Linked DNA regions of Homo sapiens. The protein of the gene in region 1 purifies or fractionates together with the protein of each later gene. This does not show direct contact. Each region holds a gene or a part of one and is shown on either strand. Other genes may lie near its edges.

Region 1 (4,820 bases):
AGCCTAGAACACTGGGGGAGACATTCAAAATCAGTTGTGAAACCCTGTGTGATAACTTCTGTAATTGAGCTAAATAATATATTGAGTACTATGATCATACAGAGAAGGGAGTGAAGGAGTAAGCCCGAGAAGATTGACAGAAACAATGACAAATGAGTGTGGTCATTTAAAAAAATGAAATTGGTTTAAGAAGCAGTTTGTTTATAGTTAGTACTCGCTCTGCAGTATTCCAAGCATCAAAATATATTATTTTGATACTCTATTAGGTGGGTTTTATTAGTGTCATTTTATGCAAAAGGACACCACCAGGTTAGCAGTCTTCCCAACGTTACAATGCTGGTAAGCTTGTAAAAATTCTGCCTCCACAGTCAAAACTACTGACAAATACAAGACTCTTAACAAATTAATAGGTCAATGTGGTTTTGAAGTAGGAGGTGGGACCTGACTCTGGAGGCAGGTTTTAGACACCAGGCCAAATTGAGGGCTAGCTAAAATGGGGACCAGGGACAGGATGGAAGCAGTGTACCATGTCAGTTTACCATTGTGATGGCAACACCTTGGAGTTACCACCTCTTTCTGTGGCAATGACCTGATGACCCAAAAGTTATTCCCCGTTCCCTAGAAATTTCTGCGTAAACTGCCCCTTAATCTACATGTAATTAAAAGTAGGTATAAATATGACCCCCAAACTGCCCTGAGCTGTGCCTCTCAGCACAGTGCCTGGGGTAGCCCTTCTCTGCAGGAGGAATCATGGAGCTGTAATACTGCCACTTCAATAAAGCTGTTTTCTTCTACCCTACCTCCAGCTCACCCTTGAATACTTTCCTGGGTGAAGCCAAGAACCCTTGAAGGCTAAGCCCCACTTTGGAGCTTGCCTGCCTTGCATCAGTTTCATCTTCAATGTATTCATTTAATATATACATTCAATATATTTCCCAAGCTATTAAAATTTTTGGTTAGTATTGGGGTATAGTAATGTTGTGATGTATATGATAAAACTAGTATTTGATCATAGCATGATGAAACAGACAATTCTCTCCAATTCTTACAAAAGCTGGTAAAACAATCTGCCAAAATAGCTGCTTGGCATTTTGGCAAAATAACTGATTGACTTACAGCCATTTAGCACAATGTCTAAAGAGAAAAACAATTCATGCCATTCTTTAAAGAAGGCAAAACTTCCATGTGTCTCTTTAATTTTGCTCTCCATTTTTACTTGAACTTTTGATTTAAATCATCTTTCTCTGCTTCCTTTGTGTCAGTGGTCTGTCAATATTTTAGAACAGTATTTCACAAATCCACAATGAAAATGAAGAACTAAAAGGAAATCAATTATTTTCAGATAAACAAATAAATATATATTTTTTGAAATCCCATAGCACTTAGTTTATGTGCATTTTCCATTGTGGTAATTAATAAAGCAAGACACCAAACTATTTCTTGAAACAATGTCTTAAACATAAGAGTTAAATGAAAATCCTTAAAAAAATAAGTTATAAAATTTTTAAACATCCGATTGAGGAATTCTGGAGTTAGACTAAGGATCAGAAGAAGAAGCAACCCTGGCTTTACCGCTACCAGTGGGATCTTAGGGGAGCCGGCTAATCCCCTGGGAACAGGATGCTCCAACCACAAATTGGTAAGATGGATAGGAGCTCTCTTAGGACATTTTCAATCCTAACAGATCATAAATGAATGAAATACTTACACAATTCTGAATTCATAATCATCTCTGTTTCTTAGAAATACATTTATATGTTATTATTCAGCAATTGTTTACTTAAGGCCTACAACTCTACCTGGAAATTCAGAAGAATGAAGGATTTTCACTGTCAGCAAAAAACTGTGCAAATTTTTGTGGGGGCATAGGATAAGTGTGACATACTGGACCTACCCAAAAATAATTAGAGCCTGAGAGGAAAAGCAAAACAAACTAACAAAAATCAGTTCCATAATTGTTTAAGGCCATATATGGCTAACACTAATGTGACTTGTGAAGCTGAAAAAGCAGATGAGGAGATGAGAAGAAGAAAAGATCAGGAAGTAATTGGGAGTCACTTCCAGGAAAGAGTAAGACTTTGGCTGCAATTTAAACTGCAACTTAAATCCTGTAGTTGAGGCATCCTCAGAAACAAAGTCTAGAGGCAGCAATGAGTGTTTAAGGAGCTCCAAGGGCCAGTGGTAGCCAAGCACAGTCAACTGGATTACTGAGAACTCAGAAGTCAAGGTAAAGAATGAGACCTTCTCCTGAGGACAGTAGGAGGTCACTGACAGTTTTTAGTGTGGGAATAGCATAATAAGTGTACTGCATCACCTCTTTAATTTCACCTCCTTCCCTTGGCCCTCCACACTGCAGTCAGACCAGACTCTATTCTTCTCCTTAGGGTTACCTCTGGACCTTTGCATATTCTGTGCACTCTGTCTGGAAATCTCCCCCCAGGCATGCACCCTCCACCTGGCCAGCTCCAGCCTGTCTTCCCAATTACAATTTAATCATTTTTAAATCCAGTCAGATGCCTTTCCTGTGTACTCCCACATAGCACCTGTACTTCTCAATGAAAGCACTGACTACTACTCTATAGCAATTGCCAACATGACTGAATCCCTCCTCTATAGGCTCTATGGTGGCAGGATTTACCATTTTTATCTTTATCTCCACATATAGTTTCTGGAATATGGTGTGTGGTGGATAAATATTTGTTGACTAAGTGAATGAACTTAATAGAACTTAATGAATGAATGAATTCAATGAATAAATGACTTAATAAACTAAATTACAATGAATAAATGATTCAATTAAATAATTTATTCATTGTAAAATATACAGAGGGAGGCAGGAGCCTGTGAAACAATTAAAAGCATGAGTTAAAATGGTAGACGTGACTTAGATAATCAAGGAGGGATGAAGCAGAGACCAAAAAAACTTGACAATGGATTGGCTTTGAATGGTGAAAGAGAAGAAAGAGTGAAAATAATTTTATGATTCTTCCCTCCTCCACTGCCTGTATTCTTTATAGCTCACACCATTTACTAAGCTCAGGGTCAAGCCTTGTTTTCTTTTTGTCCACAGTGGGCATAGACTCACAATTATTTCAATGCTGATATTTCCTATTTTGAAAGCTTCTGCCTCCTTTCATATTCTATCCTCAAGCAATATCCAAAATCAAATATTTAAGTACTAAACATATGTCTTCTATTAGTAGGCCTCAATTATTTCTTCTCAGTTAAAACACCACTGAGCTAATCAGGAATAAATTCACATCCACCAAAGTAACTGCAGTTGGACAAATTGTAAAGGGGTGAGGGCTAACTAAGTTCATGGATGGAAAAAGATAGATCAGAGTTTTCTAACTGGAAAGAAGTAAATAAAATATTTTCTTGGATTTACCTTTGGTTTGAGTCTTGACCCAGGAATTAATCTTTTTTCTAGCTTCTTCTGCACATTCTAGGAAGTCTACTGCCTGGGGTTCTGAGGAGTAATATTTCTGACAGAGTCGAATATATTCCTTTAAAGCAAGAAAATGACAAAGGCTACATAAAATACATACCAAACAAGCCATGGCATAATGGTGAATTATGGTCTTCCCATTGAAATTAGGAGACCTGGGGTAGGGTGGGAGTGGAGGTTGGCTATGGAAGGCAGGTGCTGAAGGGGGAAAGAGTGCAGACCCCTTTGTCCACGCTTACTCCCCAACTCTATCCACCCTCTTGTACTCCTTGCATTATAGAGACAGAATAAAAGGAAAGAGGTTTGACTTGGGGGATAGTGTCTCTGGAAAACAGTTGCATTTGTTTTCCTGATTTATGACTCTGAGATTGGGACATTTGCAATGGGAAGAGGAGGAAGCCCCAGAGGGTACAGGAAGGGCAGCTGTTACGCAAGGCCAGCCCTAGGGAGCTGGTGTGGAATTCCAACTCTGCTTTTATGAACTGTTGAATTGTAGAGAACTGCTTTGAAAGTGACTTCATTACTTGTTTGGGATCCAGCCATTTCAATTACAGGTTTCACTTACTTCCCGGAAGCTCGCAGACTTCTCACCAAACAGCTTATTGACACTTTCCAGTAAATAATTCCCTGTGGATGCATTGATTGCAGAGCTGAGAGAGCGGAAGGATGAATGGATTTTATCTGCAGCTTGTGCCTTGAAAAGAAAGAAGGAATTCTTTATATATAACACAGAACTACTAAACAAGATAGTTCTTAAGCCATGGTAATAGTTTTTGAATACAATCATGAAATGCTATATTAATACATACTTTATTTTTGGTACATTAGAGGAATCTTTGAGAAAATCATTTCGATAAGGATGTGGTACATTAAAACTAATAAGGTGAATTTTAATTTCTTTCCAATTTTGCTCTGTCTATGGATTGGATTTAACCAGGTGACCAACAGCCTAGAAGAAAGGCCCCTTCTCAGTTTCCTAAACTTCAAAGTCTCTAAGGAATTTTTGTTGTATTTATAAGATGGATAAGTTCTGGGGATCTAATGTACAGTATAATGACTATAGTTAATAAGATTGTGTTCATTAATAGTTATAGTTAATAAAACTGTTTACTTGAAATTTGTGAAGAATATATTTTTTAAGTGTCCTCACTATACATACACACATACATACAAATGGTGGGTAATTGTAGTGATGGATGTGCTCATTAATTTGACTGTAATCATTTCACAATGTATAGGTATAGCAAGTCATCACACTGTACATCTTGAACATGTACAATTTTTATTTGTCCATTATACCTCAGTAAAGCTGGCAGGGAGGAAATGTTGCCTTAGTAATGATCTTACAAAGTTCATATAGCTTCTCTAGATA
Region 2 (4,315 bases), on another chromosome or scaffold:
TTTCCTTAAAGTGTCCAGTTGAAAACTTTTGGCTCAGAGATCTTGGAGGCAATCTTGCAGATGAATGACAAATGGGTTGCTGTTAATGCTGAATGTTTATGTCTAAATGACTAGTTATTACCTACCCTCCTGCTCTTTTTTCATTATATTTTTTACCTGATTGGGAACAAGGCAAGCAACCTTCTTGGGAAAGAGAAAGTGAAGTTTTGCGTTGAAGTCGAATGATGAGGAGATAGAACTCTCTGAGGCAGAGGGTCGTGGGTGGGGGCTGAGGGAGTGGACACCAGCAGACCTAGGCGAGGTTAAGACTTGATGTTTAGAGATTCTGGAGAGGATGTGGAGAAATAGGAACGCTTTTACACTGTTGGTGGGAGTGTAAATTAGTTCAACCATTGTGGAAGACAGTGTGGCGATTCCTTAAGGATCTAGAACTAGAATTACCATTTGACCCAGCAATCCCATTACTGGTTATATACCTAAAGGATTATAAATCATGCTACTATAAAGACACATGCACATGTATGTTTATTGTGGCACTATTCACAATAGCAAAGACTTGGAACCAACCCAAATGTCCATCAGTGATAGACTGGATTAAGAAAATGTGGCACATATACACCATGGAATACTATGCAGCCATAAAAAAGGATGAGTTCATGTCCTTTGCAGGGACATGGTTGAAGCTGGAAACCATCACTCCCAGCAAACTATCACAAGGACAGAAAACCAAACACTGCATGTTCTCACTCATAGGTGGGAATTGATCAGTGAGAACACTTGGACACAGGGCGGGGAACATCACACACCGGGGCCTGTCGGGGGTTGGGGGACGGGGGGAGGGATAGCATTAGGAGAAATACCTAATGTAAATGATGAGTTGATGGGTGCAGCACACCAACATGGCACATGTATACCTATGCATCAAACCTGCACATTGTGCACATGTGCCCTAGAACTTAAAGTATAATAATAATAAAAAAAAAGAATTTGAAATAAAATTGTCTTTTTATTATATGCAAAAAAAAAAAAAAGAGACTTGATGTTTGGGTGGTTCTCCTCCCCTTGGGTTTTCTGACCTTCACCTGGTTCCTGAGGCCACAGCCACAGTCTGTTTGTTTTGCAGTGTTTAGCCCTCCAGGCCCAAATCACAGCTCTCACCAAGCAAAATGAACAGCACATCAAGGAACTAGAGAAGAACAAGTCCCAGATGTCTGGGGTTGAAGCTGCTGCATCTGACCCCTCAGAGAAGGTGAGCTGGTATTTCAAATGAGAAGCAAGCCATTTATATCAAGCATTCAGAAAGAACATGGCCAGTATGTTGTGTTAATAGCTCTTTTTCTAACTTTAGTGATGTTTTACTTGTCTGATGACTTTAAAATGAACCAGATTTGGTGTTTGTTTGTTTGAGACGGAGTCTCACTTTGTCACCAGGCTAGAGTGCAGTGATGTGATCTTGGCTCACTGCAACCTCCGCCTCCCAGGTTCAAGCGATTCTCCTGCCGCAGCCGCCTGAGTAGCTGGGACTACAGGCACGCGCCACCACACCCAGCTAATTTTTGTATTTTTAGTAGAGACAGGGTTTCACCATGTTGGCCAGGATGGTCTCGGTCTCTTGACCTTGTGATCCGCCTGCCTCAGCCTCCCAAAGTGCTGGGATTACAGGCATGAGCCACCATGCCCGGCCCAGATTTGGTTCTTGAGTTTAAGGAGCTTACAGCCTAGTGGGAAAACAAACAAATACATACTTACATATTAAGTGGCAAACCCAAAAGAACCCTATCTTTCTGAGGTTTTGACAGGTATAGGAAGGGCCTCTAACCACAGAAGAAGAATGGGGCTTGGGGAGTGTGCCCAGCATCCACTGGCCTCTGACCCTTAGAGCCTATGGCAGCTCCTAGTGGTGCTCACAGTGGGAGGGGGACATCAAGAAATGGTCTTTAAGCAGTCTTGGGCACACAGACCACAGCTTGCCTGCCCTTGATAGGTAACTCTCATGACTAGCCCTTCTGTCAAAGTGCTGCTCATTATTTAATATCATCCTCTCCACAGTGACAGCCTTCAGTGTCTCTGCTTATGACCAGCAGTATCCCAGTGTAGAGATCTAAGATGGCTTCATTTTGGCCTTCCATACACCTCTCTGGAATTTAATGCATCCTTTAGTGACTTGATTTTGACAGCATGTGTTTTGATGTTCACACAGGTCAAGAAGATCATGAACCAGGTGTTCCAGTCCTTACGGAGAGAGTTTGAGCTGGAGGAATCTTACAATGGCAGGACCATTCTGGGAACCATCATGAATACGATCAAGGTACAGCCAGCCAGCTGTCATTTGTTTCATCGTATTGGGCATTTTGTTGCTTAAGTACCTTCTAAGGGATCATGAATAAAAAATTGTTCAAAGCTGGCACAGTGGCTTATGCTTGTAATCCCAGCATTTTGGGAGGCCAAGGTGGGAGGACTGCTTGAGGCCAGGAGCTTGAGACCAGCTTGGGCAACATAATGAGACTTTGTCTCTACTAAAATTAAAAATTTAAAAATTAGCCGGGTATGGTGGCACGTGCCTGTAGTCCCAGCTACTTGGGAGGCTGAGGCAGGAGAATCACTTGAGCCCAGGAGTTCAAGACTACAGTGAGCCATGATTGCCCCCAACTGCACTCCAGCCTGGATAACAGAGCAAGACCCTGTCTCCAAAGAAAAAAAAAAGAAAATTATTCAGGACTGTTCCTCAGTAATTAGGATGCCTGGAGTGACTTGACAGATATAGTCAGCCTCTTTTAACAGGAAAGAAGCAAAGTCATTTAAACTACATGACCAGTAGTGTTAATAAGAATTAGGAGTGGCTACTGTGTTCCTTTCAGTGACCATCTCTTCCTTGGCTTTTGAATAGATGGTGACTCTTCAGCTGTTAAACCAACAGGAGCAAGAGAAGGAAGAGAGCAGCAGTGAAGAAGAAGAAGAAAAAGCAGAAGAGCGGCCACGAAGACCTTCCCAGGAGCAGTCAGCCTCAGCCAGTTCTGGGCAGCCTCAAGCACCCCTGAATAGGGAGAGGCCAGAGTCCCCCATGGTGCCCTCAGAGCAGGTGGTCGAGGAAGCTGTCCCGTTGCCTCCTCAGGCCCTCACCACTTCCCAGGATGGACACAGAAGGAAAGGGGACTCAGAAGCTGAGGCACTCTCAGAGATAAAAGATGGTTCCCTTCCACCCGAACTGTCTTGCATCCCATCCCACAGAGTTCTAGGGCCCCCGACTTCAATTCCACCTGAGCCCCTAGGCCCTGTATCCATGGACTCTGAGTGTGAGGAGTCACTTGCTGCCAGCCCAATGGCAGCTAAGCCCGACAACCCATCAGGAAAGGTCTGTGTCAGGGAAGTAGCACCAGATGGCCCACTACAAGAAAGCTCCACAAGACTGTCCCTGACTTCAGACCCCGAGGAGGGGGACCCACTGGCCTTAGGGCCTGAAAGCCCAGGAGAGCCTCAGCCTCCACAGCTCAAGAAAGATGATGTCACTAGCTCCACCGGTCCCCACAAGGAGCTGTCAAGCACAGAGGCAGGTTCCACAGTTGCAGGAGCAGCCCTCAGACCCAGCCATCATTCCCAGCGTTCCAGGTATGTTCCTCTGAGCACTGCTTCAGGGACAGGGTAGTTATCTGTGGTGAGTGTCTCTGTTTTTTCCAGGGCTGGCAACTCATCCCTCAGAGACTAATTTACTCATGTCTTCATTCATTAGTTGATGTATTAATTCAACAACACCTACCATGTACAAGGCTCTGTGGCGGGCCCTACAGTAGTGTGGCGGGCCCTGTGGTAGTGTGGCGGGCCCTGCGGTAGTGTGGCGGGCACTGTGGTAGTGTGGTGGGCCCTGTGATAGTGTGGTAGGCAAGGCAGGTTTGGTTCTTGAGTTTAAGGAGTGACAGTCAAGTGGAGAAAACAAATACATACTTACATATCATAAAGTATGATAAGTCCTTTTAAAAAAGAAACAGGGTGCTATTCTAAAGGAGTTGTTCCACTTTAGATAGGGTGGCTAGGGAAGGATTCTGAGAAGGTCACATTGAAAAGATGACTCTGGCTGTAGGTTCTGGAGGGGGCCAACCGCACTAGGAGGCCACTGTAGGGTGTGGGAAGAGATGGTGGCAGCGGAGGTGGGAGGAATTCCTGAGCAGTCACCAACGCTGTTGAATTCTTACCCAAGGGCCGGTGACCCTTGTAGGTGGTGGGTACTGTGACCTGGAGCAGGAACAATAACATTTTCTATGACTTGATTTTCCTTCAGTCTCTCTGGGGATGAAGAGGATGAACTGTTTAAAGGGGCAAC

The links.
Region 2: the proteins of SERPINB2 (region 1) and FKBP15 purify together in Homo sapiens (affinity purification with mass spectrometry; 2 studies listed by BioGRID and IntAct, with this or other methods). This does not show direct contact.

What each region holds. Positions count from the first base shown.
Region 1 is NC_000018.10:63,896,413-63,901,232, reverse strand, and holds part of SERPINB2 (plasminogen activator inhibitor 2), read right to left. Parts: intron 4,143-4,820; coding exon 4,014-4,142; intron 3,507-4,013; coding exon 3,389-3,506; intron 1-3,388. UniProt on the Homo sapiens protein: Inhibits urokinase-type plasminogen activator. The monocyte derived PAI-2 is distinct from the endothelial cell-derived PAI-1.
Region 2 is NC_000009.12:113,168,515-113,172,829, reverse strand, and holds part of FKBP15 (FK506-binding protein 15), read left to right. Parts: intron 1-1,123; coding exon 1,124-1,249; intron 1,250-2,200; coding exon 2,201-2,308; intron 2,309-2,887; coding exon 2,888-3,606; intron 3,607-4,273; coding exon 4,274-4,315. UniProt on the Homo sapiens protein: May be involved in the cytoskeletal organization of neuronal growth cones. Seems to be inactive as a PPIase. Involved in the transport of early endosomes at the level of transition between microfilament-based and microtubule-based movement.